Linked DNA regions of Homo sapiens. The protein of the gene in region 1 interacts with the protein of each later gene in a biochemical or structural test. Each region holds a gene or a part of one and is shown in the gene's direction. Other genes may lie near its edges.

Region 1 (7,177 bases):
ACTTGCAATATTTCTTTTTAACATGTTTTATACCCCCAAGTAACATGTCTTATACCCTCAAGTAAGCTCTTTGAGGGAAATGGCTTTATCATGTGCCTGCCCCCCATTCCTCACTGTGAAGTGAAGCTCACAAGGCTCTGTTAATCCACTGAATCTTTGACTCCTCCACTCTTTTGGAATGCCCCTGGGATATGTGTTCTGTAAATGGACACTCAACATGTTTATAGTGAAAATCTAATGGCCGAGAGCCCAGCCACTGTAAACACATTCTTTCTACTTTTGCAGGTCTGCACTCTAATGACAAAAGATTGCTTAGATTTAGAGAAGAAAACGCGTGGATTTCTTCTACAGTGTTACAAGTATTTAAAGCCAGCAACGAAAATTCTTGGAATTTTATGCTGCATCACGATGCGCGGCCCTGGGTGATCTAGCCTTCCAGTTCTTCGTGCAAAGCTGAATACCAGCTTTTAACCACCACCATACCCAACCCGCACCCCAAGCACTGGCACTTGAAGCCGAGTTGTGGTCATACATCACCATCCACACTCCCAGGCTGTAAACCCAATGCAAACCTGGGGCTTCTCAGTGGGACAGGCCTACAAGGAGAGGAGAGGTGCCTCGTGAGGAGGAGCCACCGCAGTAAGCAGTCAGAGCCCCCTTCCCCAGACTCCCCCTTCCAAGGGCAACCCGAAATAGCAGAAACGCTTTTATATGTGGGCAGAGCCGCATGCCCACGAGACAGGCACATGTGGACTGCGGGCATTCGGTACAAGGAAGCGAGGACACAGAGTACGTAGGGTGCTGAGGGTCCACCTCGCAGCCAAAGTATGTGTGCCAGTGAGTGTGTGCAGCTTGTGAGATCTGCTCTAGAAACCGTGGCCGCGGACTGGCGCGGCCTCCTGGGCGAAGCACAAACAGGAGGCTTTGTTCCCTGAATGTGAGAATGAGGGAGCCGAGCTGGGCGCAAAGACGGCGGCGTTCCGCGGCGGGAAACCGTCGTCTCCGCCGCGGCTCGGGCAGCGCGCGAAACTCTCAATCAGGTTCCCCGGCCCGGGCCGCCGGCTATGCCAGCGGCGCGCAGTGGGGACAGCCTAGCTGTCTCGCGAGCAGCGCCCGGAGAGGCCGCGCCGCGGGCCCCGCCGCGTCCCTCCGCCAGCGCGGGCGGCCCCACGCGCCCGCCACTCGGCAGCGCAGCCAGCGCCACATTCCATTTAAAAATAACACCCACGTGCGCTGGTAAACAAGCGCGCGCGGCTACCAGGGCCGCGCGCCCCGGCCCAGTGTGTGTGGCGCGCGCCCGCCCTCCTCCCGCACGTGTCGGCCGGCGCCATTCAGTCCCCGCCCCCTCGGCGGGTCGCGCCCCGCCCCCGAGCCCCCAGCCCCGCCGCTCCGGGCCCTAGCGCCCCCTACCCCGCCAGGCGCGCCCAGTCGAGTGCGCTGCAACTTTCCTCCCCCGACGCCTCCTCTTCGCTGGCAGACCCACCGCCCCAAGTCGGCTGCCTTCCTCCCGTCCGCTGTCCTCTCGCGTCCCCCCTTGAACCCTCCCACCGCCAGCGCGCGAAGGATTGGTTTCTAGTGCGCCCTCTCCCTTTTTCCCTCTCCTCTCTCTCCTTCCTTAGAATTTTACTCGATTGTTTATTATTTGCTGGGGGGCGGGGGCGGGGGGGCGGAGAGGGGCGTCTGGGGCCTGGAGACTGGTGGCCGCGGCCAGTCAGCGCGCGGCGTGCCTTGACGAGTAAGCGGCGCAGCGAATGGCGACGCGGCGGAGAGCTCCGGGGTCACGCGCGTGTGGATACGATGACATCATCTGTTTGTACGCGTCGAACTAGCTTGGTGCAGGGGCGGGGCCGCGCGTCACTTGAGTGACGGGCGCTGCGCAAAGCCCGGAGCCCGGAGGCGGCTGGGCGGGCTGGCTCTTGCGTACGCTGGGCTGGACCTTTTTGTGTATGGGGTCGTTGAGGAGCCCGCTTCTACACTCTGAGCTATCTCCGGTGACTTACAAGGATTTTTTAAAAAATATATTTATGAACTAGTGTGTAGACTTTTGGTGTGCATGTCGCGTGTGGTGCATTCGTAGAGTACAAATAAACGATTTGGGGCACGGATCGTAGAATAAGGACTTGTGCAGATGTTTTTCGTTTAACCTAAAGGATACGTCTTTTTTTAAAAGTCAAAAATGCCCACGTAGCGGTTTTGTCGTCATTTACAAATTAGATTAAAATTATTTCCCCTTCTCAGTTGTTCGGAATCTGCTCTTGAATGTAGGACGGGGGTAAATTTGCATTTCTTCCGGAGTTAGTTACACCTCTCCCCCGTTTGCCATGAAACCCATGAAAAGTGAAACACGACTGTGGTCCACCGTCCGAGGTGAGAGACTCAGTGCAAACCTTTTGGTGCCTGATCGAATCTGTGAGCATCAGCTTATCGAAGTTGTGCAGGCACCAACATCTTCGCCGTTCAGTATTTCCACACCGCGATAACCCTGCCCATCTTGCGGCCAGCATCTTATCTCGGGTGTTACCTGGTGTCGCGTTCTAACAGGGAACCGGACACCGGGGCTGGCCCAGAGCCCGGCGGGCGGACGCGCAGGCCAGGGACCCCCTGGTACCAGGCGCCCTGCCCGGAGTCAGGGAGGCCACGCCGCTGCGCTCCTTGGAGCGTCGGGGGCTGTGCGCTCCTGCCGCTCCCCCTTCTCCCTCCTCTCCCCACTTCTTCCTCCTCTCCTCCCTTCTCCCCCCTTCTCCCTCCTCTCCCGGGCCAGCGCCGCGCTTTGTTGTCGTTGAGACTCTCGGGAGGGAGGAGGAGCCCAGCGGGGACAGCAGCGGGAGCCCGCCGAGTCCCGGCCCACGGCGCGCGCCCGGACACCCACGCCCGCAGCCCCGCGGAGCCGGGCCGCGCAGGCGCGCGCGAGCTCACACACGCGCACTCACACACGCACGCCCGCCGCGCGCCCGGCCCGCCGCCCAGCCCGCCGCCCAGCCCTCCCCCTGGGCGGGGACCCGCCCGCCGTCAGCCTAGGTTGAGGCGCCCTGCGTGTGTCTATAACTTTGTGCTGCTGCCGCGGCCGCCCTGCTCGTGGAAGGGAGGAGGAGGAATGTGGAAGGTGGCGGCGCGCGAGCTGACAGGCGGTTCCTCGGGCGGGCTGCGGCGACGGCCCGAGCGCTTCTCCTTCGCCGAGGTTGCGCGCCCCCTCCTCGCCGTGCCCCGGGCCCGCGCGGGATCGTGCGTCGTCCCGCCGCGTCCCTGAAGGGAAGGAAGCGAGGTAGGCGCCGGAGCCGTGCAGCGGGCGGCCGCCTTCCCGGTGACTCCGGATCTGCTTCCGAGCTGGGCCGGGCGCTTCCCTTTCCCCTCCCTGAGCCGCGGTGTGCGCGCCCCCCTTCTCGCCCGCTAGTGTTTTTAAAGGACTCGGGAAGGGGGAAACTGTCAAGATGGCAGCAGCGGGAGCAAGGAGGTGATGAACGTGCTGGTCCGGGTTTTCTAGCAGCCCGGGAGACTTGGCGCTTCCCGACCTGTTGGAAGATTTATGTTCCGACTCGCTCCCTCCCCCGGATCCCGACTGGGAAGGGGGCGGAGGGGACGACGTCCGCGAGAATGCAAACCACACAAAACCCCGAAGTGGCCGTCCCCGCCGGGCTCGAACCTCTGCGAACACCCGCTGGGCTGCTGCTCCCCCTTCTTTCTGTCTTTCCTTTATTTTTTGGAAGTGACAAGGGCCCATCTGCGCCCAGACCCCCGTTCGCCCTCTGGCCCGCGGGCGAAGAGGGGAGAGGGAGCTGCCCGCGCAGTCCCCGGGCTCGGGCCATTCGACCGGGTGGGGGGTGACGGGGGGTCGCGGAGGCGGCCAGGCTAGGAAAGGGGAGAAGAGCCGAAGACAGCACAGACTTGAGCGGCGGCGCCGCGGGAGGCACTAGAGCGGGCCCGAGCGAAACATAAACAAACGCACGCACACCCGAGCTCGGGCTCTGACCGCGGCTCGGCTGCGCCAGCTCCGGCCGCTGCCCGCTTTAAAGGCGCGGCCGCCCCTCCCCCGGGCGCCCCTCCCCCTTCTCCCCGCCCCGCCGCCTAGCCCGGGAGGGACCTGCGGCTGGGCGGCGGGGGGAGGGGGCTGCCCCGCGCGAGGCCGTCGATTCGCTCGCGGCTCCATCGCGGCCTGGCCGGGGGGCGGTGTCTGCTGCGCCAGGTTCGCTGGCCGCACGTCTTCAGGTCCTCCTGTTCCTGGGAGGCGGGCGCGGCAGGACTGGGAGGTGGCGGCAGCGGGCGAGGACTCGCCGAGGACGGGGCTCCGGCCCGGGATAACCAACTCTCCTTCTCTCTTCTTTGGTGCTTCCCCAGGCGGCGGCGGCGGCGCCCGGGAGCCGGAGCCTTCGCGGCGTCCACGTCCCTCCCCCGCTGCACCCCGCCCCGGCGCGAGAGGAGAGCGCGAGAGCCCCAGCCGCGGGCGGGCGGGCGGCGAAGATGGCAGAGGCACCGGCTTCCCCGGCCCCGCTCTCTCCGCTCGAAGTGGAGCTGGACCCGGAGTTCGAGCCCCAGAGCCGTCCGCGATCCTGTACGTGGCCCCTGCAAAGGCCGGAGCTCCAAGCGAGCCCTGCCAAGCCCTCGGGGGAGACGGCCGCCGACTCCATGATCCCCGAGGAGGAGGACGATGAAGACGACGAGGACGGCGGGGGACGGGCCGGCTCGGCCATGGCGATCGGCGGCGGCGGCGGGAGCGGCACGCTGGGCTCCGGGCTGCTCCTTGAGGACTCGGCCCGGGTGCTGGCACCCGGAGGGCAAGACCCCGGGTCTGGGCCAGCCACCGCGGCGGGCGGGCTGAGCGGGGGTACACAGGCGCTGCTGCAGCCTCAGCAACCGCTGCCACCGCCGCAGCCGGGGGCGGCTGGGGGCTCCGGGCAGCCGAGGAAATGTTCGTCGCGGCGGAACGCCTGGGGAAACCTGTCCTACGCGGACCTGATCACCCGCGCCATCGAGAGCTCCCCGGACAAACGGCTCACTCTGTCCCAGATCTACGAGTGGATGGTGCGTTGCGTGCCCTACTTCAAGGATAAGGGCGACAGCAACAGCTCTGCCGGCTGGAAGGTGCGTACCCACCCCGGGCTGGCAGCAGGACCCGCCGGGCCTCCTGCGCAGCGCGAGACGCGTCTCGGATTCGTCGGAGTGCGCTTGCGGGCTCCAGGGCAAGGGGTTGGCAGGGGGAGCCTCCGCTGCGAGGCTTTGGGGGTTATCTTTGATCCCCGGAGTCGGGGCACCTGGGGACGGTCTCGGAGGGGTGAATGAGGCTCCCCAGAAGCTTGGGGCATGGCCAGGTGAGGAGAGGGGGCAGGGGACGCCGGCGAGGGAAGGGCGAACGGACAGGAGTACATTTGCTGGATTCTCCGGACAGCACCGAGGAGGTAGGTCCGCAGCCAACTTTGGAGTAGAGTTTACCGTAGTGGGGGTCTGGTGCGGGCGCTGTGGCTGGAGTGAGAGGTGTGGGGGTGTTTGGGACGCAGTGTCTGGAGGAGGGGTTGGATGTGTGGTTTCCAGTCTGTCGCAGGAGCATGTTGCGTCGTCACTAGCTGAATGAGAACCTTCGGGTCCAAGTTTCAGCTTGTGGGTGTTAACACCTACAGGCACATCGATCCGATTAGAAAAAGCAGTGGTTGCAAACCTTTTCCTGGACGGCTTCCTTTCCTTGCCTATATTGATACCTTTTCTTCTCGGAGATGTCGCTCCAGTAAACCTGCTTCTGACTAGCTGCTTCTGAAATGTTCTGGGGCCTCGAACCGGCCGGTCTGGCCACCTCAATCCAGACTGGCTGCACCCGCTGCTCCCGCCGAGGCCTGGATTCAGGCACTGTTTGAGGGAAGGGCTCTGGTGTGGGGGACGCGGGGCCTGCGCTTCATTCACTCTGGCGTTTGGGAGGAGGTTTGGGGGCTGGGCCGGGCCGTAATGGCTTCTACCTGTAAATGAACCCGAAGAGAGACTCTCTACCGTTCCTTATCATCCTCTTGGGGCACGGGACACGTGGTAGGGAGAGAGGTGTGGAAAGGCCTATGATGTAATGACTTCCTGCAGTTGGGTATCCAAAGAGATTAACTCCTCTGCCCCTGCTGGGCTGCTGATATCCAGCTGCTTTCCTCTTCCTAGGCACCTCCCTGGCCCCTTCCCCCAAGACAGTGTGTGTCAGTACCAGGCCAAAGAGTCCTGTGCGATTGGAGATATACATCTCTTATCAGCTGCCCATATTTGCAATTTAGCTTAGATTTTTTTTTGTTTTGTTTTATGTAAAAGAAGTAGTTGCTTCCTCCTTCCCTTTCTTCATTGTCATTGGGGAGCCCTCTGTCTTCCTGGGTTTCAGGAGGTATAAAAATAAGAACAGTTTAATCTTAGTGGAGAATTCAATGGAAGCACTGGAGACGAGCCTGTAGATGAAAAAGTTAAAGAACTTAATGTAGAGAATGTTTTATTTTGCTTCTAGAAAACCCTTGCAAAGTTAAATACGGCTTATATCAGAGAGGCTTTGTATTAGATACTTTAAAAGCAAAACACGTGTGCTTTGATATTAATCCACTAATGTGTCTCATTTCTTTTAACAAATGCTTACATTATGAGTCTTATATTTGGTTTAATTCAATTGCTTTGTAAAAGAATGCCAGGTGTATGATACGAGAGTTCTTTACAGAAAGGATGAAAGTTAGACAATTCCATTTGAAAAGAGCACTAGTGTGATATGTTTTAAAACTGGGTTTCCAAGTGGATGGGAAGGGTTAATCAGTGTATAGTATCAGGAAGGCGTAAGCGGACAGGATCTGAGAACATGGATTTGGGGGTTCGAAATGTTTTTCAGATTTCTCTCACTTGAAATTTAGTCTTGCATGTTTGAATTTGGTGAGGAGAATACGTTAGTGAAAAGTTAGTTAACTTTAAACTTAGTTAAAACGTTAACGTAGGAAGGCGTTTTCACCTTTCCTGTGATTTTTAAGGTTACAAAAATAATTTAATTTCACAAATATTTCTTGTTATTTTGTTTATAGTTAAATATAATAAGTTTAATGAACTTTATTTTTGGGGGGAAGATTTACATGAGATAATGGTATTACCAAAAGTAGCCGCGAATTGAGATTGGGCTAGATACATTTTCATATAGTTTGTAGGACTTGCAATACAGATTTTGGGACTAGTCATAAACTTTATGGTT
Region 2 (7,024 bases), on another chromosome or scaffold:
ACTTCTCTCTTTTTTAAAATTTCTTTTTTTTTCCCTGAGAAAAAGCCTCAGTTATTTCTTAAAATAACTATAGGCTACTATACTTTCTTCATAGAATTGTAGTATGTGTTTTATAAGATGTGTGCAAAGCATGGGACATAGTAGGCGATCAGTAAATGCTGATTGCCCTTATCTTTTTCAAAGTTTCAAAGTTGTACAGGTTGAACATGTAGACGAGTTTCAAATGGCCAATGATAATGCTATATATTATAGTCTTTGTTGGGGGGCTTAGGAAGGAACATTTCTAAAATTCTGAATGTTGATTTTATACTGTGAGGTTGTTGGGAATCCACTGTCCCTTGGAACCTATGTCTCTATAACCTGAGGCTGGAGAGACTGTGGGCGTGACCTCATTTATCACCATCCTGCCTTTGAAGGCTTGTTTCTTTGATTTGGGATTGTGTGTTCTGGCAACTTGTGTGTGTTTCATCAGTAATTTGTTATAGTGCTTCCTGGTAAGGTAGCCTTTTCCCAAACATGGACTGGCCTGAAGGCTCTCTTCCTGTGAAATATCCCGGTTAAATAATGTCAGGAGTGCCATCCCTTTTTTTATTTTTATTTTTTGAGACAGAGTCTCACTCTGTCACCCAGGCTGGAGTGCAGTAGCATGATCTTGGCTCAGTGCAACCTCCGAGGAGAGCTGTCCCTTTGCAGAGAATGGTGATCTCACACATATAAAAGGGCTGTATGTTCCCAAAGATTATTTCCAAGTTGATTATTTGGAATGTGGGACACATTTTCCCATAAAAGCAATGTGGTTGGGTTACTAGTCTGACCTACAAAGCTTTTTATTTGGCATCTTAGTTGAAGTGCCAATTTACTAATAGCAGTTTTGGGTTCTGGGAACAGAGCTTGCAGGACAGGTGGGAGGAGGAAGAGAGCTTCTGATCTCTTTCTGGGGCCTTGGTTTGAGTTAGGCAGAGATTTGTCTTTCTCTAAACTCAGGTTCTCTATCCTTCTCCTTAGGTCTCCAAGTCCCCTGGCACTTTTCTTTTCTTCAGTTCCTCTCCAGACAGGCTCTATTTCTCCAAATGTTATATGTTCCAGAAACTTCTTAGGTCCCTGTCCCTTTTTCTCCATGTAGCTGATGTCAGCCAGGTTTTAGGAGGAAGGCAGGGGGACAAATTTATACCAGGTTGTGAGTGATTGATGATAGTCCTTTACTCTTCCACTTTAGGGAGAGTTTGCATTTTTTTTTTTTTTGAGATGGAGTTTCACTCTTGTTGCCCAGGCTGGAGTACAGTGGCGTGATCTTGGCTCACTGTAACCTCTGCCTCCTGGGTTCAAGTGATTCTCCTGCCTCAGCCTCCCGAGTAGCTGGGATTACAGGTGCCCACCACCACGCCTGGCTAATTTTTTTGTATTTTTAGTAGATATGGGGCTTCACCATGTTGGCCAGGCTTGGTCTCAAACTCCTGACCTCAGGTGATCCACCAGCCTCCGTCTCCCAAAGTGCTGCGATTACAGGCCTGAGCCACCGCGCCTGGCCAACTGCCTCCTGGGTTCAAGTGATTCTTCTGCCTCAGCTTCGCGAGTAGCTGGGACTACAGGTGTGCGCTACCATGCCCGGCTAATTTTTTTTTTTTGAGACGAGTCTCGCTCTGTCGCCTGGTCTGGAGTGCAGTGGCGCGACCTCGGCTCACTGCAACCTCTGCCTCCTGGGTTCAAGCGATTCTGCCTGCCTCAGCCTCCTGAGTAGCTGGGATTACAGGCACTCGCCACCACGCCTGACTAATTTATTTTTTATTTGAGGCGGAGTCTCGCTCTGTTGCCCAGGCTGGAGTGCAGTGGCGCGATCTCGGCTCACTGCAAGCTCTGCCTCCTGGGTTCACGCCATTCTCTCACCTCAGCCTCCCAAGTAGCTGGGATTACAGGCATGCGTCACCTCGCCCAGCTAATTTTTTTTGTATTTTTAGTAGAGACAGGGTTTCTTTTTTTTTTTTTTTTTTTTGAGACGGAGTCTCGCTCTGTTGACCAGGCTGGAGTGCAGTGGCACGATCTTGGCTCACTGCAAGCTCCGAGTTCCATGTTCTCGCCATTCTCCTGCCTCAGCCTCCCAAGTAGCTGGGACTAAAGCACCCGCCACCATGCCCGGCTAATTTTTTGTATTTTTAGTAGAGACGGGGTTTCACCGTGTTAGCCAGGATGGTCTCGATCTCCTGACCTTGTGATCCGCCCGCCTCGGCCTCCCAAAGTGCTGGGATTACAGGCGTGAGCCACTGTGCCCGGCCACACCCGGCTAATTTTTGTTATTTTTAGTAGAGACAGGGTTTCGCCATGTTGACCAGGCTGGTCTTGAACTCCTGAGCCCAGGTGATCTGCCCACCTCTGCCTACCAAAGTGCTGGGATTACGGACATGAGCCACTTCACCTGGCTAATTTTTAAATTGTTTGTAGAGATGGGGGTCTCCCTGTGTTGCCTGGGCTGGTCTTGAATTCCTGGGCTCAAGCGATCCTGCCGCCTGGGCCTCCCAAAGTGCTGGGATTACAAGTGTTAGCCACTGTGCCTGGTCTAGATTTTCTTCTTTCTACAAGTTATGAAAATTTCCATTATGTGGGCATATAATTAATTACACATCATCTTATCAACTGATATTTGGGTTGTTTCTAATTTTTTTTTGTTTTCAAGACAGGGTCTTGCTCTGTCACCCAGGCTGGAGTGCAGCTCACTTCAGCCTCAGCCTCCTGGGCTCAAGTGATCCTCCCGCCTCAGCCCCCGAATAGCTAGGACTACAGGTGTGCACCACTACACCTGGCTAATTTTTGTATTTTTTGTAGAGATGGGGTTTGGCCATGTGGTCCAGGCTGGTTTCAAACTCCTGGACTCAAGCAATCTGCCTGCCTCGGCCTCCCGAAGTTTTGGGATTATAGGCGGGAGGCACTGTGCCTGGCCTAGATTTTATTCATTTTATAAGCTATGAAAATTTTTATTATGTGGGCCTATCTTTTTTTTCTCTTTTTTAAATTTGAGACGGAGTCTTGCTGTGTTGCCCAGGCTGGAGTGCAGTGGCGTGATCTTGGCTCACTGCAACCTCTGCCTCCTGGGTTCAAGCGGTTCTTCTGCCTCAGCCTCCCGAGTAGCTGGGATTACAGGTGTGCGCCACCATGCCTGGCTAATTTTTTGTATTTTTAGTAGAGGTGGAATTTCGCTATGTTGGCCAGGCTGGTCTTGAACTCCTGGCCTCAAGTGATCCACCCGCCTCGGATTCCCAAAGTGTTGGGATTACAGGTGTGAGCCACCACACCCAGCCTCTTTTTTTTTTTAAGACAGTCTCACTCTGTCACCCAGGCTGGAGTGCAGTGGAACGGTCCAGCTCACTGCAAGCTCTGCCTCCCCAGTTCAAGCGATTCTCCTGCTTCAGCCTCCCAAGTAGCTGGGATTACAGGTGTGTGCCGTCATGTCAGGCTAATTTTTGTATTTTTTAGTAGAGATGGGGTTTCAATATGTTTCCCAGGCCTGGTCTGGAACTCCTGACCTCAAATGATCCACCTACCTCAGCCTCCCAAAGTTCTGGGATTACAGGTGTGAGTCACCATGCCGGACCTGGGCATATCATTATTTACCCATTGTCTTATCAACTGATATTTGAGTTGTTTCTTTTTTTTTTTTTTCCCCCGAGATGGAGTCTTGCTCTGTCAACCAGAGCTGGAGCGCAATGGCACGATCTCAGCTCACTGTAACCTCTGCCTCCTGGGTTCAGGCAATTCTCCTGCCTCAGCCTCCTGAGTAGCTAGGATTACAGGTGTGCGCCACCACACTTGGCTAATTTTTGTATTTTTAGTAGAGATGGGGTTTCACCTTGTTGGCCAGGCTGGTTTCGAACTCCTGATCTCGTGATCTGCCTGTCTTGGCCTCCCAAAGTGCTGGGATTACAGGTGTGAGCCACCACGCCCAGCCTATTTGGGTTGTTTCTAATTAATAAAAAATTTTTTTATTTGAGTCAGAGTTTCACTCTTGTTGCCTAGGCTGGAGTGCGATGGCACGATCTTGGCTCACTGCAACCTCTGCCTCCTGGTTCAAGCAATTCTCCTTCCTCAGCCTCCCAAGTAGCTGGGATTATAGGCATGCGCCACCACACCTGAATAATTTTATATTTTTAGTAGAAATGGGGTTTCACTATGTTGGTCAGGCGCATCTCCAACTCCTGACCTCAGGTGTGATCCACCCACTTTGGCCTCCCAAAGTGCTGGGATTGTAGGCATGAGCCACCGCGCCCCGCCTAAAATTTTTTTTTTTTTAAAGTAGAGATGGGGTCTCGCTGTGTTGCCCAGGTTGGTGTCAAACTCCTGGACTCAAGTGATCCTCCCACCTGGGGCTCCCAAAGTGCTGAGATTACAGGTGTGAGCCACTATGCCCAGCTTTTTTTTTTTTTTTTGATGCATTAAACACCTTTGTGTTTCCGTGAGCACATCTGAAAGATAGATTCCTGTAAGTAGACCTGTTGACTCATTGTGTATATGCAGTTTTTTATTCCAAAAGATTGTCCCCTTAGGAGGTCCTTCCCACCCACAGAGCGGGAGAATTCTTGTTTCCTCTTCCTGGAATCTTGTTTTGTTTTTATTGAGACAGAGTCTCGTTCTGTTGTCCAGGCTGGAGTGCAGTGGTATGATCTCAGCTCACTGCAACCCCCACCTCCTGGACTCAGGTGATCCTCCTGCTTCAGCCTCCCAAGTAGCTGGGACTACAGGTATGCAACCACACCCAGCTAATTTTTAAATTTTTTTTGTAAAGATGGCGTTTTGCCAAGTTGGCCAGCCTGGTCTTGAACCCCTGGCCTCAAGTGATCTGCCTGCCTTGGCCTCCCAAATTGCTGGGATTAGGTATGAGCCACCACACCTAGCCAGATGTTTTTAATTTGCCAACCTTATCCAGAAAGAGAAATCACATATAATTTACGTGTCCGTGCTTATTCAGGAGGTTGGCAATTTATTCCAAATGTTTACTGCAATTAGGTTTTTTTTTTTTTTTTGAGACGAAGTCTCGCTCTGTTGCCTGGGTTGGAGTGCAGTGGTGCAATCTCGGCTCACCACAAGCTCCGCCTCCCAGGTTCACGCCATTCTTCTGCCTCAGCCTCCCAAGTAGCTGGGACCGCAGGCGCCCGCCACCACGCCTGGCTAATTTTTTTGTACTTTTTTAGTAGAGATGGGATTTCACCATGTTAGCCAGGATGGTCTCGATCTCCTTACCTTGTGATCTGCCTGCCTTGGCCTCCCAAAGTGCTGGGATTACAGGCGTGAGCCACCGCACCTGACCTGTTTTTTTTTCTTCTGTGAATTGCCTGTGTATGTCTGAAACATCAACTTGGTTTTATTTTTCTAACGGTTCTGCTCTGGGGGGGAGAGGGAAGGGAGGGCATGGTTATTGAAGGGATTGTCAGTATTGCCCTTCTCTTTCCTCCCCAGAGTGAGGGAGGGCAGGAGGCTGTGGGTTTGGCTTAACAAGCCCTTACTCTGTCCTGGAAGTATGTGTCTGGTTTATTCTAAGGCTCAGGTGTTGGAGTCCTGGTTTAAAAGTGAGAGAGAGGCCGGGCGCTTTGGCTCATACCTGTAATCCCAACACTTTGGAGGCCAAGGCGGGTGGATCACCTGAGGTCAGGAGTTTGCGATCAGCCTGGCCAACATGGTGAAACCCCGTCTCTACTAAAAATGCAAAAATTAGCTAGGCATGGTGACATACGTCTGTAATCCCAGCTACTCAGAACACTGAGGCAGGAGAATCGCTTGAACCCGGGAGGCAGAGGTTGCAGTGAGCTGAGATCGCGCCACTGCACTCCAGCCTGGGCGACAGAGCGAGACTCTGTCTCAAAGAAAAAAAAAAAAATTAGCTGGGTGTGGTGGCACGTGCCTGTAATCTCAGCTACTCAGGAGACTGAGGCAGGAGAATCGCTTGAACCCTGGAGGTGGAGGTTGCATTGAGCCAAGATCGTGTCACTGGACTCCAGCCTGGGCAACAAGAGCAAAACTCCGTCTCAAGAAAAAAAAAAAAGGTGAAAGGGAGTGTGTGTGTTGTAGGGGAGGATTCTATTTATCTGTTTGTTTTTTCATTTTTTTTTGTCAAGATTCTTCAGAGGAGGCCCCTCCAGCCACTCAGAACTTCATCATTCCAAAAAAGGAGATCCACACAGTTCCAGACATGGGCAAATGGAAGCGTTCTCAGGTACCATTTGGAACTGTGGTGAGAAACTTGGGCTTTTCAAAGACAGTGGTTTTCCTAGCATGACGGGCGGTGAGTTCCTGGCCCTTCTTGCTCTTGGAGCCTGACTTTTCAGAAGCTAGGGAGAAAGGTGACAGGGGAGCTGGCTGTCTCTTCCCTTCAGAGGCAGTACTCAGAGATGCTTTATCAGGAAGGTTGCCTACTTTTTCAGGCTGCTGCCAGGGTAGCCCGGGAGAGTTCCGCTCCTGGTTCTCTTAAGCCATTGCCCCTTGAGTGTTGCTGTATTGGCTGAACATGAGTGTTTGAAATGATGGAGCGAGTCACTTTGATTCTTGGCTGCAAGTAACAGCAAGTGTGGCAGCCAGTGCCTCAAGGGGAGAAGAGGCTATCTCATGGAAACTTTGGCCAGGGATATGGCTAAGCCTGCAAATACCTGGGAGCTGGGACCCAGAGCACTGGGCACAGACTGGCTTTCTCTGCTGCTCAGCTGAAATGATGGGCAGAAGATAACTACTTGTACCTCTCAGGCTTGTGGTACAGGCTGTGGAAAGACAGACTGAGCAAAAGAAAGCCAATTTCAATTTCTCAGGGAAGGCCTCTGGCCCAGTTCTCGTCAGGCTCCTGCTCCCGGCCTGGTGAGCTGGGCTGGAGAGTGTTGCTCATGCAGAAGGCTGGGCACAGGGGTCCTTGCATGCTGGGCAGATTCTCCAGGAGACCCACACCCTACAGCTTCTATGCCTTGTCCTCACTGGGGCTTGGGGCCATCTAAACCTGTCTGATTCCTTTTTCACAAGCCTGCCCTCTCAGTATTTGGAAATAGTTATCATGTCT
Region 3 (7,777 bases), on another chromosome or scaffold:
TGGAGTCTTAACATACGTATCATGCTTGACATGTTTTTGAACTTTGTATAAATGGTATTGTATGGGATGTATTCTGCTGTTGCAGAATGGGAGAAGAACTGCAGACAAAGTATAGAAAACTCTTTTAGAAGTTTTGTTGTAAAGGGAGTAGAGAAATAGGTGATAGCTGACAGTAGAAATAGGTCAAAGAGAAGAATCTGTAGGATTGGAAAAATCACAGCTGCTTGTAAGCTTATCAGAATGACCCAGTAGAGAAATACTGATAAAACAGAATAGGCGGATAATTGCTGGAGTGACAGTGAGGATCTTGATTAGGCAAGATAGTACTGGAATCTATGTCTTGGTGACAATACTCCTTTAGCTAGGAGCACGGCAATTCAACCATGTGAGGGTGGGGAAGGCAAAGTAGAGGCTGGTATGTGGGTGTGGGTGATGCTGAGATTCTGTGGAATTTTTTCTCTCATTGCTTCAATTTTCTAAACAAGGCTATTAATTGAGAATGATTGAGGAGAGGACATGCAACTTAGAGGACAGAGAACGTACAAAATCCAGAAGAATGGAGGCGGGAAGTAGAATTGCTGGACAGCATTAAGGGTCTATCTGAGGTTCATGGTGATGAAATTAAAGTGAAGGTAGTCAGTGTGATTGTGTTCTTCTCTCGCCACATTCAGATGCATGGGTGCCAGCTTGAATCAGGGTTGTGGCTTTGCCAAGCAAGCACAACAAAGGGAAAAAAAGGCAAGGGGGCTGAGGGCATGTGTAAGAGTGATTGTGATTGGCTGGGGGTTGAGGCTGGGTGACAGCAGATATGAGGGTTCAAGAATTGTTGCAGTTAGAGTACTATAGGGAGTGATCTGGAAAACTGAGGTAGTGATCAGGGTGTGAGATGTTTGAAACTGAGATAATGAAGAAGTTGCAGAGTTTGATAAGGCTACGGTGATTATGACCATGGGAGGAAGTGGCTGAGTTAGGATATGTGCAAGTTTGAAGTTAGAGAAGGTACAAAATCTAGAATGATCAAGGGGAGGATGTGTAAGTTAGAGGACAGAGAAGGTATAAAATCCAGAAGAGTGGATCAGGGAAGTATAAGAGAATTGCTGAACAGCACTAAGGGTCTACCTGAGGTTAATGGTGAACAGTGGGAGTCTCCAGCCAACAGCCAGGAAGGACTGAGGCTATCAGTCCTGAGGCCTGCAAGGAACTGAATGCTGCCAACAACCACATGAGCTTGGAAGCAGATCCGCTATCCCAGCCTCACTTTGTAGAGGACCCAGCTAAGCAACGCCTGGACTCCTGACCCAGAGAAACTGTAAGATCATAAAATTGAAGCAATGAAGAAGATCCTTGAGAAGAAGAAAAGGAACTGAGAGGCCAGGGTACTGGGAAGATCTTATAACCACCTACCACTAGGACAGAAGTGGCATTGGAGTGAATGTCAGGAGCAAATTGTGCAGAGATGAAGCGGGGTGAGGTCAGCGATAGAGGTATCGGACAGCAAGATTTAAAGCTGCCGGTTTAGAGGAGGAGGGGGATGACCTGGAAGCAATGTTGAGAAGCAAGAAGGAAACCTATCTCACCTCCAGGCACTAAGAAGCTGAAGGTTGAAAACACAGTTGCCGGAAGTAGTTCTGTCCTGTGGGGTTCGGCATCATGCAAGTTCCCCCTGGGCTGTTCTCTGATACAGGGCACTTGCTCCACACTCTGGGAACCCAGATTAACCAGTCTGCCCTGTCACATAGTTGAAGGAGTTGCATTTATCTTTCTGGCTCCCAATTCCTTTAAAATTACATTTGTTGCAGAACCTCCACAAGGCTAAATAAAATAAAATTACATTTGTGACCATCAGAGAACTGAAGAACTATTAACTGGCTGTTCTGGTTTTGCTGAGATCGGGCTGTTGACAGTTCCTGGTTGTCCCACAGCTACCCATGTCAGTTATCTCCACTAACATTTCCAAGAATCTTTGTAGGACAATTTCTCCACCTGCAAGGTCTTTCAAGTAAGAACTCTTCTTTCCTTTAAGGCAATTAGCCCATTGCCAAAAGGTTTTACTGTCTTAAAGCTGGAACTATCTGAGATCTAATTCCAAGGACTTTTCTACAGCTAAGTGAGATGCCTCACACCAGTATTAGGTGATTCTTCGTGAGGACAGAACAGAGCATTTTCATCTTGTGTTTAAAGCAATTTGTTGGCTTCGGCTCCTCACCACTTTCTATACCAGTCTCCCATTCACGTCCCTAGTAATGCCTATGCCAAAAAAAAAGAAAAAAAAGAAAAAGCTGACGGTGAAACCTACAGGTTTAAGGGCTTAAATCTCAACCTTTGTGTTAGGAGTAACAGGAGTGTGCTGAGAGGGCAAGCAATAAAACAAGTCATACCAAAAGGCCACATTGGTCTCTCCTAAGCCCCAATCCCACTCCACTCCTGTGGCCAGTAGTCCAAACAGAAAATAACTGGAGAAGACGAGGAGGTCAAGGATCAGGAAACTAAACGTTATGTGAATTCACCAGCAAGATGTACAGAACGCTTGCGTTTACATTGTTTTTATGGAACTAGCAGAATAAAACTGATCTATTTTAAAAATGAAAAAAAAAAAAAAACAAAAGAAAGAAAACACAGTTGCCACTACTTGAGAGGTGGAAGGAGGAGCAGTGTCCCAGGGCAAAGTTGGGTTTCCTTAAGTAAAAAGGTGAAGGGAACCTGAAGGGAAATTCTGAGAAGAGGTTGAGCTTACAGGGAATATCATTTGCATAAATAAATACATGGTGTGGTAGACTCTAAAGAGGCCCCATATGATTCCCACCTCCTGGTGTTCAAGCTTTTGTGTGTTTCCTTCCCCTTCAATGTAGGTGGCGCCTGTGATTTGCTTCTGGCCAGCAATGTATGGCAAAGGTGACAGAGTATGAGTGATACTGTGTATGTGATGATGTTACATAAGATTGAAACCAGTGTCTTGCTGAGACTCTTCCCGTTGCTGGCTTCGAAGAGGCAAGCTGCCATATTGTTAGCTTCCCTATGGAGAGCACCACATGGCAAGGAACAGAGGGGGTCTCCAGCCAACAGCCTGCAAAGGACTAAGGCCCTCAGTCCTGTAGCCTGCAAGGAACTGAATGGTGCCAACAACCACATGAACTTGGAAGCAGATCCTTTGTTCCAGCCTCACTTTGTAGAGGACCCAGCTAAGCCATGCCTGGAATCCTGACTCAGAGAATCTGTAAGATCATAAATGTTTGTTGTTTTAGGCTTCTATATTTGTGGTGAGATTGTTATACAGCAATAGGTAACTAATACAGACGGAATAGAAGAAGTTTAGTTATAACAATGTCTCAATTTCTTAAAAACTTCTTCTGAGGTATATTACCTAAGATTCACATATTGATCTGTTACCAAATCATGTTTTGTAATCTATCAGCTGACAGATCTTCCTTCAGTTTTGTTGACAGAAAAGATTTGAAAACTATCTGACTTGAAAAATAATTTAATATCCATTCACTAAGGTCATTTACTTTCTCAGCATAGATACCGATTTTTGAATTGTCCCTTTTGGATTGCTGGGGAGGTTCTGCATTGATCCCATGCACCTTAGTAGTGGGTGAGAATTTTGACTTTCTTCTGTAAGGTGGGAGGACAGTTTTGAAAGGGGATGCTGTGTCCTCAGCTCCTTTCTCAAGCTGGGCAAGTTTAGAAAATAGAATATATAGCAATGGAAGATGTGGAAATGAATTCCCTTAAAACTGGTCTCCATAAACCCCAGGGGTAAGAGAACACCAGTTTGGAGCTTTAGGGGCTTTCTGGTCAAAGAGGGAATGGCCCAGGCGGTGATGTGGAGGATAGAATGAAGCACTGAGTATGAGTGGCGAAGGCGTACGGTGGGTGTAGAGATTTTCTGGGCGACGTGACCTAAGAAATGACTTTAGAACTGGCTAATCATTGGTTTTGGAGGGACTAAAAGTAGTTCCTGGTTGGTGAAAATAAATCATTAATGCGTTTTAAATGAAAAAGAAATGCATGCGTCTTGTAAAAAATGTGAAATAAAAGAGGCATAAAGTCAAAAGCAGAGCCTATGCCTTCCCCCACCAAACAAACAGGTAACCTAGTTAACAGGTGTGTCGTAGGATTCGAAGTTCGCCTCCAGCTCCGAGAGTGCGCCTACATCTCTTCCAACAAAATCCACTCACACTTGCAACGCCTGGCAAGGCTCTTCAATATGTGATTCCTTGACTGTCCTGTGCGTCTCTCGAGTGTAAACACCTCTGGGGCTCGTGATTCGGGGCTGCCAGAAAGAGAAGGAAGGTGCCGCCAGCGTCTGTTTCTTCCCGAAGTGAACTCCTACAACCTAGCCACCTTCTCCCCAGAGCTGTCGACTGGCTGTTGAAGGCCAATTTTTGTGCCTACGCAGGTCCTCAACACAGAACAAAACAAAAAAACAACAAAGGCCGGGCTAATAGCTATTTATAAACACTTACTGGACGCCCACTCTACGCCGAGCTCTCCCGCGCTCCTTGGATACTTTTTTGCAACGAGATGCCAATTTCCCCGGCGACCACTCCCTCAAACAGGCCTTCGCCTCCGCCCGCGCTGAGGCCCAGGCCCAGGTCCAGATTCAGAGCCGCCCGCCGGCTGGCGCTGCCCTGTAGGCGCCTGCGCAGAGCGACCCTCCCCGTCACTCGGAGCGGGAGGCGGGGGCAGCCGGGAGAAAGGAAAGCTGCGGGGGAAAAGGGCCAAACCCTGAAATTACCCGGATGTGGTCCCCGCGCGCGCATGCTCAGTGGCTTCTCGACAAGTTGGCAGCAACAACACGGCCCTGGTCGTCGTCGCCGCTGCGGTAACGGAGCGGTTTGGGTGGCGGAGCCTGCGTTCGCGCCTTCCCGCTCTCCTCGGGAGGCCCTTCCTGCTCTCCCCTAGGCTCCGCGGCCGCCCAGGGGGTGGGAGCGGGTGAGGGGAGCCAGGCGCCCAGCGAGAGAGGCCCCCCGCCGCAGGGCGGCCCGGGAGCTCGAGGCGGTCCGGCCCGCGCGGGCAGCGGCGCGGCGCTGAGGAGGGGCGGCCTGGCCGGGACGCCTCGGGGCGGGGGCCGAGGAGCTCTCCGGGCCGCCGGGGAAAGCTACGGGCCCGGTGCGTCCGCGGACCAGCAGCGCGGGAGAGCGGACTCCCCTCGCCACCGCCCGAGCCCAGGTAACCGCGCCATGTCCCCTCCCCTTCCCCCGGCCGGGCCCGCGCACCCCGCCTGTGGCTTCCCCGCCCCGGGGCGGGCTCCCGACGACGGCGGCGGCGGCGGCGGCGGCTGGGAGCGCGCGGAATCCTCTGGGAGGGCGACCGCGGCGGCCTGACGAGCCGGGCCGGGCGGGCCGGCTGAATGCCGGGCGGCGGTGCCTCGCGTCCCTCGGGCCCCCAGCTCCGCTTGCAGCTCGTGGGAGAATCAAGTTAAACTCGGACGGGACTCCTGCCGCGGCCGCCGCTCCTCTTTGTTGTTCTCAGTAGTTTCACGGTCGCCCCGGCTGAGCGCGTTGGGTCGGCTGGAATGTGTTGCCTTAGGGTCTAAGTGAAAGTTGTAAATTGTTTGTCTAAATTTATTTTCTCCAGCCAATTTCTGTTTTGTCTTTGTCCCCTACTTTCTCTTCCTAGTCTTGTCATGCCAGTTTACGCTTCTGGCTTTGATATGTTTACTTTTTGAGTACTGAGAGTGACAGCGGTATGCAGGACACATTCTTAGCACCTAACTGAACCCCTCCTTGCCCCCAATAAAACATGCTTCCTAATAAAAGACACAGCTGATCTTACTGTTAGCACTGCATGTACTGACAGTGAAATTGGTGTAGGGTGGAGGGCGGTGGCTCCATCACTTGTCCCAAACTGCTGTTAGGATTTCTCAAACTAGATTTTCAAAGACACAAGTGTGTTTAGTTAACCTGAAAGGTTTATTTGCTGGTGCAGAGGCTTTAAAAAGCCCTGTTGAAGATTGATAGCTGTTTCCCTTCAAAAACCTAAGTACGTTTGTTTTTATTTAAAAAAACACATTTATTTCCCAATTAGTTTCTTAATGCATTTAGTTTTTGCACCGTAGTTTAAGGTGGAATTGCCAGTTATTTAGGAATAATAAACACAACAGGATAATAGCGGAATTACCCTGAATTGACTTTCTGCAAACATATAATCTTAGCTAATTTTTGTTAGTAACCTTTGACTTTTGCCAGAATTAGCATCCTTCTAGTCTTAGTAGCAGCTTGGTTACTCGGGTGTTTTAAGAAGTAGGTTCACTCCTTTTTGCTGGCAAAAACCATTTAGTATCAAAAAAAAAAAAATGCGTAATTTCGTAATTAGATTTAGAACAAGGCATTTGAATAATTTTTATGGTGGATTTCATAAATTACTTTTGCCATACCCTGCAGAGACTAGATAATATATATTTCAGTTGAAATCTAGGAAGTTCTAAAATGTAACTTTTTTTTAATGCTAAGGACTTACTCTCTCTATATTGGAAAGTTCTGATATGATTAGTACATAATATTCCAAACTGTAAAATGATTAACATTTAAAAATACGGTTTTTAAAATTAGTGTTTCTTCCATAATGCTGTCATGATTTTGTTTACTTAAATGGGTTTGTTACAGAACAAATGTAATAGAGATGGACCAAGCATTTGTAATTCGGAGTAGCTTTAGGTCTAAAGACGATGGTGAATTATGTAGGTTTAAGTTGTTGGAATTAAAACTAAAAGCTTCTTTTGATAAAAGTCGTTATAACATTTTGTGACTCTATTAATAGAAGTGGCTTTTTCTTTGCTTTCCAGGTTTTTGGGCGAGTTTTAAAGAAGTATTGCATCTTCGTTTTTTTTATTTTTGAAGTGGGAGTGTATGTTTCTGTTTAGGTCACTGCCTTCATTGTAAATCTTGAGTTTAGAAAAAACCAAACTGCAAATCTGTTTTTCAGACTTAATGAAAATTTGTGCCGAGAAAGTCACTTTGAAATATTTTGGAATAAGTTTTACATGAATGATTGATCTTTTATGATAGCTTTGCTGTTTGAAGCAATTCTCCCTCTACTAGGAAGCAGCAAATCTTACTTTTAAAAACCTCTGCTTCACTTTCTTAAGCTACATTTTAGTCGAGCGATTGTGTGTGAATTCTTTTTCTGTATTCCCCTTCAGTTTTTCTTTCTCCCCGCAAATTAAGGAGCGAGAATTAACCTAATTTATGCTGCCCAGTCACACTCCAGCTCTCCCACTTGGAAGCAGTTTTTTTCTGATTGAGCCAGTGTTATAGTAACATCATTAGACACTATTCTAATTGAGGTGTGAGTTACTGAGGCCTCTGCTAGGGAGGTTAACCCTACAGAATCTGTAGGGTTCATTATATTTAAACTGCATATTTCGGCTTGTCTAAATTTTTGCCTATTTTGGTGAAAACATGTTGTTTTGTCGATGTTTAAACTTAGTTCATTTTGTCCCTCTCTAGTTCATGACTAACCATTTTTTTCATTTTTAATCCAGCGATTTTTTTAGAGTGGTTCTTTAAGCATCTTGTATTAGCCATTTCAATGGTCATTATATATGTTTGGATTTCTCTTATTTTGTTGAACTAGAAGACTGTGTGGTTACGCCCCAAAATTTTTTTTTGTCTTAAAGCCATGATGAATGGGGTGACTCTGAGGTGACCATTAATCGCGTATAAAAGTAACCTGACTAAAATGTTTTCATTGTTTTCTACAGTTAAAGGACTTACACCAGCATAACACAGCATTTTTTTTTTTTTTTTTTTTTGAGATGGAGGCTCGCTCTGTT
Region 4 (6,496 bases), on another chromosome or scaffold:
TTTGTAATTTGATCAGTTCAAGTTAAAACAATTTAACCAAAAACTATGAATGTTTATGATATAATGAAATGATTTTTAACTTTCTTATTGCTTTTTCACACACCTATAAAAGTAATTTTATTACTCTCAAGAGAAATCACTAAAGTCAGAATTACTAGAGGTAAAAATAACTAGTTTGTTACAGTATTACTCAGAGAAGTCAGGGAGAAAACTTGTACCATGATTCAAATATTTGCATGGTGTGGAGGAAAAATTGCTCCTTGGTACTCTGTTATTTATACATACTGTTTTTAGTTAAATAATTTTTTTTGTTGTTAAAGGGTATATTTGTAACAAGGGTACAACCTGAAGGACCAGCATCAAAATTACTGCAGCCAGGTGATAAAATTATTCAGGTAATTAAAATAAATCTTTTTTTTTTTCATTTTATAACACTCTAATGTTTTCACAGTTTAAAATGTTTTCACTTTAACTTTGAAAATTGTGGGTGGGAGGCTGAGGCAGGAGAATGGCGTGAACCCGGGAGGCGGCACTTGCAGCGAGCCGAGATCGCGCCACTGTACTCCAGCCTGGGCGACAGAGCGAGACTCTGTCTCAAAAAAAAAAAAAAAAAAAGTTTGATACATCATAGGATTTTGTTTAAGCTCAGGAATGTTAATTTTTACTAATTTGAGGGGGATTAGAGTACCACTTCTTGGATGTGGGCTATTGTCCTTTCAGAAATGGAGAAGAAAAATTTTAAATCTGCGAAACTCATTTTTTCCTGTCCCCTCCTTTTCTTTGTTCATTCAGCTACTCATTTTACCTAAACACTTACAGTCTTAGAAGGAAGACAAACCTAGGACACAAGTATAGCTCTCATTTTCTACCCCTACTGTCACCGTTCTTAGCTGAGAACTAAAGAACTTAAAAAATAATCCTCAAACCAAAAAAAAAGGGAGAGAGAGACATTAATGTCTAATAGCTGAAAGTACAGATTCTGAAAGCCAGACTGCCTGAGTTTAAATTCTGGTCCCAACACTTTCTAAAAATAAAACTAATTAAAAAAAATTTTTTTTGAATAATTTTAAGCTTAGAAAAAAGCCACAAAAATACTACAACAAACACCAGTATTACATCAATTGGTCACCAGTCGTTCATAATTTGCTACATTGTCTTTATCATTTATTCTCCTCTTTCTTCTCTTTTTCTCCCTCCCTCCCTCTACACACACACACACACACACACACACACACACACATACACACACACACACAGTCACACTCACTCATACAGTTATACACATTTATTTTTCTGAACCATTTGGGTTTCAATTTGTGACTGAGCAAGTTACTTTGCCTCTCCATGCCTGGGCTTTCTCTTCTCTAAAATAAGATAGTGAAAGAATCTTTTTTGAGCATTATGAGAATCAAAGGATCTAATTCATATTACACCCTTAGAATTGTGTGTTTGGTACACAGTAGAACCTCAGTAAATATTAAGCTTAATTGTAAGAAATATGGTGGTCTTGATGTGATGGCTCCAAGACAATGGGAAGAGTAGCCCTTGCCCCCTGCTACGCTACAGTTTGGTCACCTCAGATACACATTAGCATTATACGACACCATGTCTGACATTATTTCTTAAGTAAGTGATTTCTAACATTGGGCTGCTACATAAGAATTGGCTGAGAAGTTGGACAAAATACACATTTTTAGACCCCATCTTCAGAGACTTTATTCCTTGGTTTGGGTAGGGCCTGTGAATCTGTATGTTATTTTAAGTTGCCAAAGTGATTCTTATTTTCTTCCAAGTTTGTGAACTACTTGGCAGAAATGCAAATAAATAACTATAAAATGTTTTTCCTAAAAGCATTTTTCCTCTTCTAGGCTAATGGCTACAGTTTTATAAATATTGAACATGGACAAGCAGTGTCCTTGCTAAAAACTTTCCAGAATACAGTTGAACTCATCATTGTACGAGAAGTTTCCTCATAAGCACTGTGGACAAAAAAAGCGGGGAAGACAGCAAGATTTATTGGAAGATACTTACAGGGGAAATTAATATTTTGACTATTTTTATATATAAAGAAGAACTCAAAAAATTATGTTCAAATTTGTACATTAATGAAATAATGGAACTTGTGGTTAGAGGGAAAGAACCACTGTACAGAATATAAAGGAGACTGTTGAATTCATACCATATAAAACTTGTTAGGTTTTTAAACATAGCAATCAAGGCTACAAAAACAAACCTGTGTTGTTTTTGTATAGATTGTAGGTTTATTTTTGGATTTCATATACATGACTGAACTGTGTGCAAGGCAATAGTTAGCCTTGATTTTAGCCCAGAGACAGATGGCAGAGCTATCTCTCTCATAGCTTTTATGCCCTTATTTTTATTCAACTGGTATTAATGTTTTTCTCCTGAAACTACTTTTTTTGATGTGGGCAAGAGATTTGAAGTGTTGGCTTTTGCTATGTGCATATTGAATTGAAGAGTGAGTAGGTGAAGGTGGTGCTGGTGGGTTCACTTTCCAAGGCCAGACTAAAACAGTTATTTTCTATAAAAATCTGGAAGCAAAGAATGGGGATGGGGAGAGCTACGTGGTAGTATGTTTTTATTAGGAGAATAATGCAATAAAATATGTAATGTCTTTTTTATAAAGCAAAAAAGACAATAATTGCATTTATGAGCTCGGCAGGATCTGTTCTTGTCATAGCCATTGACTATACATTTGCTACTGGTGATTCAGTTTTTAATTTTTTAGTCACAGGAAATTTTTAACTCTACTGTAGATGCATGTCCATGCATTTTCTGTGTTATGGAAATCCACTGATTTTTTTTTTTTTTTCAAATGGTGGTACTTGCAATCTGTTTTATAATTAGTGCTCCATTTAAATCTAATTTATAATTTTTATTTTAAGCAGCAAATGAAACAAAAATGGCCAGTTTTAAGATTGTGTTGCCTGTAACACAAAATGTTACGAAGGTTTAGGAAAGCCTCTTTGATTTTTGTTTGGCCTTGCATTGCCTTGGTAAAGTAAAAGGAAACAGTACACTTGGAGCTAGGAAACCAAAGCAAGCTTTGTGAAACTGGCACAGTGATAGAGAATTGCTGTGGAGAGTTATAGAGCAAAGGGATGGGTCCTTGAGGCCTGCCAGTGTGTAAAGGTGTTCAAATAAAGGGCTGTTTCTACAGGTAACATTAAATGTGAACTCAACACTTCCAGAGTCTTTAAAGGGTTTCTATGTGTATCAGTGTAATAGTGTTTTACCACCAACTGCCTTTCTTTGTTCCTAGTTACTGTAACAAATATTTGATGATAGAGGTTTATTAATTTTGTTTATCCAGACCATTAATTTTATTTGTTTTTGTTCTATGTAATCAAATAAAATTTGAGTAACATGTAATGGTAAGGATTAATGCATGGTTATTTGGACCAGAAAAAAGTGCCATAGAAGACCAATAACTGTTTAGTTGAGGCTAGTCTGGAACCTTTCATTAGAGCAATATTTGGTTATTGCACTTCATTTTTATTTACTAAGAAATGCAATTTGGGAATTTTTAATCTGTTATGCTTTGTTTATCAACCTTGATTTTAATTAAGACTTTTATAAGACTAGCTTAAAACACCAACCAACATTATTTTTGCAAAAGTGAGTTGGACTCACTTTCCATTCTTGCTAGTCAGAGTAAGTAGGCAGCACTTTTAAAAATATGTGAACTCAAATATTGCACTTCTTTCAAGATGTTATCAATTGGTTATTGTACTGTATAGTTTTAATAATTTTGATTGAAACCCTTTAACAACTCTTTGTAAATTTTAACTCATTTTAGTTGATTTTCAGTACTATTTACATAGGAATTGATTTTTATGGATATAGTAGAAGAAATGTGCTGTATTTTGATAAAATTCACTTATTGTATGTGTGTTGTAATCTAAAAAAAAAAAGAATGACAAACAGCTTCTTTAAGACAAGTCTCGGTGTTCCCTTTATTCTTAGTTTGTTTTTAAATATTAATTTTGGCATTCTAAAATAGCTAACATTTCTTTTATTGATTTCAGATTTTCACAGGCACATTCTACTTTTAATCAGAAATATATTTAATAAGTATAATTGTGAAGTTTTCAACTACTTTACCTTGAACCACATATACCAATTATAATTTTGGAAAAGGAATTAAGCCTCACGGAACAATGGATCTTCAGCAAACCTTAACTTCATTGTCTGCACATTACATTGAAGTATTATAAATGCAACAGATGTTATATGCACTGGCATTTTATCCTACTCTAGTTAGTTAAAATTTTATAGTATTCTTGCAACACATAAAGTTGCGTAAGAAACTTTACCAAGAGGAGTATTATAGCCAAGTTTTCTTTGAAAGTATTGGAAAACTAAAATTAAATGACAAGGACTTTGAATTAGAATTTTGCTGTAATAAAGTTTCAAAATTTGAATAAAATAATTAAATTTTTTGAGGAAGTGGAGAAGACATTTTTAGTTTATATATTGTTGAGTAAATTGTAGTTAAGGCCTATACCCATAACTAACTTTAGTAAGTATTATATAGCAATTCATCAAAACCACAACTGTCTTTTAGTGATTTTGTCTTTAAGAGTAATTTCTTACTCTAACCAGTAAAAAAATAATACTGATCAGAGTAATTTATACGGCATACAATAGTTGATACAATCTAAAGATTTATGCTAATTAAGGAATTATCACTTCATCTGAATCAATGAAATTCTAAAATTCCCTACATATTTATTTTGTAAATATTCTTCTGACCTCTTTGGACTGGATATGAAGATATATATATATACACTTAATTCTTTTAAACACAAAACTTGCCATAAGCAGAACCAAACTTTTAAGTATTAATTTGCTGCACTTAAAAAATCCCATTAGCAGCTATGTAATATTTTTATCAACCAACATTTATTCATTCCAAATTTTTGTATATATCTAGATGAAGTAACACATAGAGGATAGATAACAAACTAATGATGTTTAAACTGGTTTATTTACAAAATTCGGGGTTAGAGAAATTCTCATGAAAAATATACAATTTTTTTTTAGCATTAAAACCCTGTATATCTAGGTGTGGAAGAAGTGTAGTTTATCTCAAATTATTATTATTTACTTCTAAAGGGAGGCATTAAGATGGGAAATGTTTCTCTGATGGAGATTGACGTGTGAAATCTATTTGGAAGGGTATTTTTTTCACTCAGTCTGTTGCATTCTTACAGCCTTCTGTTTTAATGTTCAGTGAATAGGTTTCTTATGAAATGGACATTGAAATAAAAATTATGATTCAAGAGCATTAATTGATGAACAAGTGAACAAGATGCCTCTTTAAAAAAAAAAAAGAAAAAGTAATCTAGACAGGCAGCCAACTCAGACCTTTGGGTATTCCTTTGTTTCTAAATAAGGACCTTCAGAAAAAGTTGACCATATTCTACCTAAAGCTGCTAATTCTTTACAGAATTCATAAGCCCAGGGGATAGTAAGTAGTCATTTAGTTTTGGAAAGTTCTTAAGAGAATGCTATCTTCTACAGTCTCATGAAGCAGTTTTTCAAGATTAGAATCTGTGGTCAGCTATAACGTACAGTCCTAATATCCAACCACCTGAGAAGCTCATCCTAAGCTGAGAAAGCCTAAAATGTTAGAGAATGTTTAGAGAAAACACCTGAAATTTTTTTTAAGAGAACAACCTAGGTTTTATTGTAGAGAACAATCAAAATACTCCTGAACCTTTCTATAGAATCTTTAGGAGAGAGGCTGACAAAAAGAATCCTTCTGTTACAACTTTCTTTTCTAATGTAACAACCAGGGACAATGGTGATCTGTCACGCATCTGCCCATCTAGCTTCTCAATCGGCCCACGGTTTTATTTCAGGATAAAATTTGAGAAACTAGTATCACTGGGGAAGGAAGAAACCTAAGCTGTAAAATTATGCTTTTCCCCTCAAGGGATTCAATAAAGCTTATTTTTCATGAAAACAAGCCTATAAATACTGACTTTCCTTAAACCTAATCAAATTGTGTTCCTCCAAGGTATAGCTTTAGAAGGATCTTCTTTCAGTTGCTCTTTCAAACTTTTCCTTGTTAGAAAAGAAAAACTAATACAAATTGTTAAAAAATTAAAGCATGAGCAGAGAGCATGGATTTTAGATGATTTTAAGTTTCCTCATCTTCATGAAAAGAAGAACCTAATACTCTGAGAAGTAATGCCTGTCCAGAATGCACACTAAACATCTCATATTTGGATCATCCTTCACTGCAGCATCCCTCAAAGGAACATTCATTCTCCCAAGAACAAGAGGAATTGTTTGCAGATAAATTATTCAAGGTAGCAAAATGGAGCATGCTTCAATCTCCTCATCCTGTCCACATACCTACAAAGGACAGAAAAGATTATTAATACTATGATAGGCAAGAGTGTTATGTAATAATAATATTACCAGTTTTGTAAAAAAAAAAAGGGAGTACACTGGATCCATAATT

The links.
Region 2: of the proteins of FOXO3 (region 1) and PTPA, one has a biochemical effect on the other in vitro, tested with the Homo sapiens proteins (one study listed by BioGRID).
Region 3: the proteins of FOXO3 (region 1) and SMAD4 form a complex in vitro, tested with the Homo sapiens proteins (one study listed by IntAct).
Region 4: the proteins of FOXO3 (region 1) and ERBIN interact in a test that uses a peptide from one of them, tested with the Homo sapiens proteins (one study listed by BioGRID).

The regions. Positions count from the first base shown.
Region 1 is NC_000006.12:108,556,754-108,563,930, forward strand, and holds the start of FOXO3 (forkhead box protein O3), read left to right. Parts: upstream 1-4,163; 5' UTR 4,164-4,455; coding exon 4,456-5,076; exon of another isoform or gene 5,077-5,270; coding exon of another isoform or gene 5,271-5,390; intron 5,391-7,177. UniProt on the Homo sapiens protein: Transcriptional activator that recognizes and binds to the DNA sequence 5'-[AG]TAAA[TC]A-3' and regulates different processes, such as apoptosis and autophagy.
Region 2 is NC_000009.12:129,114,415-129,121,438, forward strand, and holds part of PTPA (serine/threonine-protein phosphatase 2A activator), read left to right. Parts: intron 1-6,098; coding exon 6,099-6,196; intron 6,197-7,024. UniProt on the Homo sapiens protein: PPIases accelerate the folding of proteins. It catalyzes the cis-trans isomerization of proline imidic peptide bonds in oligopeptides. Acts as a regulatory subunit for serine/threonine-protein phosphatase 2A (PP2A).
Region 3 is NC_000018.10:51,025,452-51,033,228, forward strand, and holds the start of SMAD4 (mothers against decapentaplegic homolog 4), read left to right. Parts: upstream 1-4,761; 5' UTR 4,762-5,172; intron 5,173-7,777. UniProt on the Homo sapiens protein: In muscle physiology, plays a central role in the balance between atrophy and hypertrophy. When recruited by MSTN, promotes atrophy response via phosphorylated SMAD2/4.
Region 4 is NC_000005.10:66,076,555-66,083,050, forward strand, and holds the end of ERBIN (erbin), read left to right. Parts: intron 1-320; coding exon 321-395; intron 396-1,868; coding exon 1,869-1,976; 3' UTR 1,977-5,992; downstream 5,993-6,496. UniProt on the Homo sapiens protein: Acts as an adapter for the receptor ERBB2, in epithelia. By binding the unphosphorylated 'Tyr-1248' of receptor ERBB2, it may contribute to stabilize this unphosphorylated state.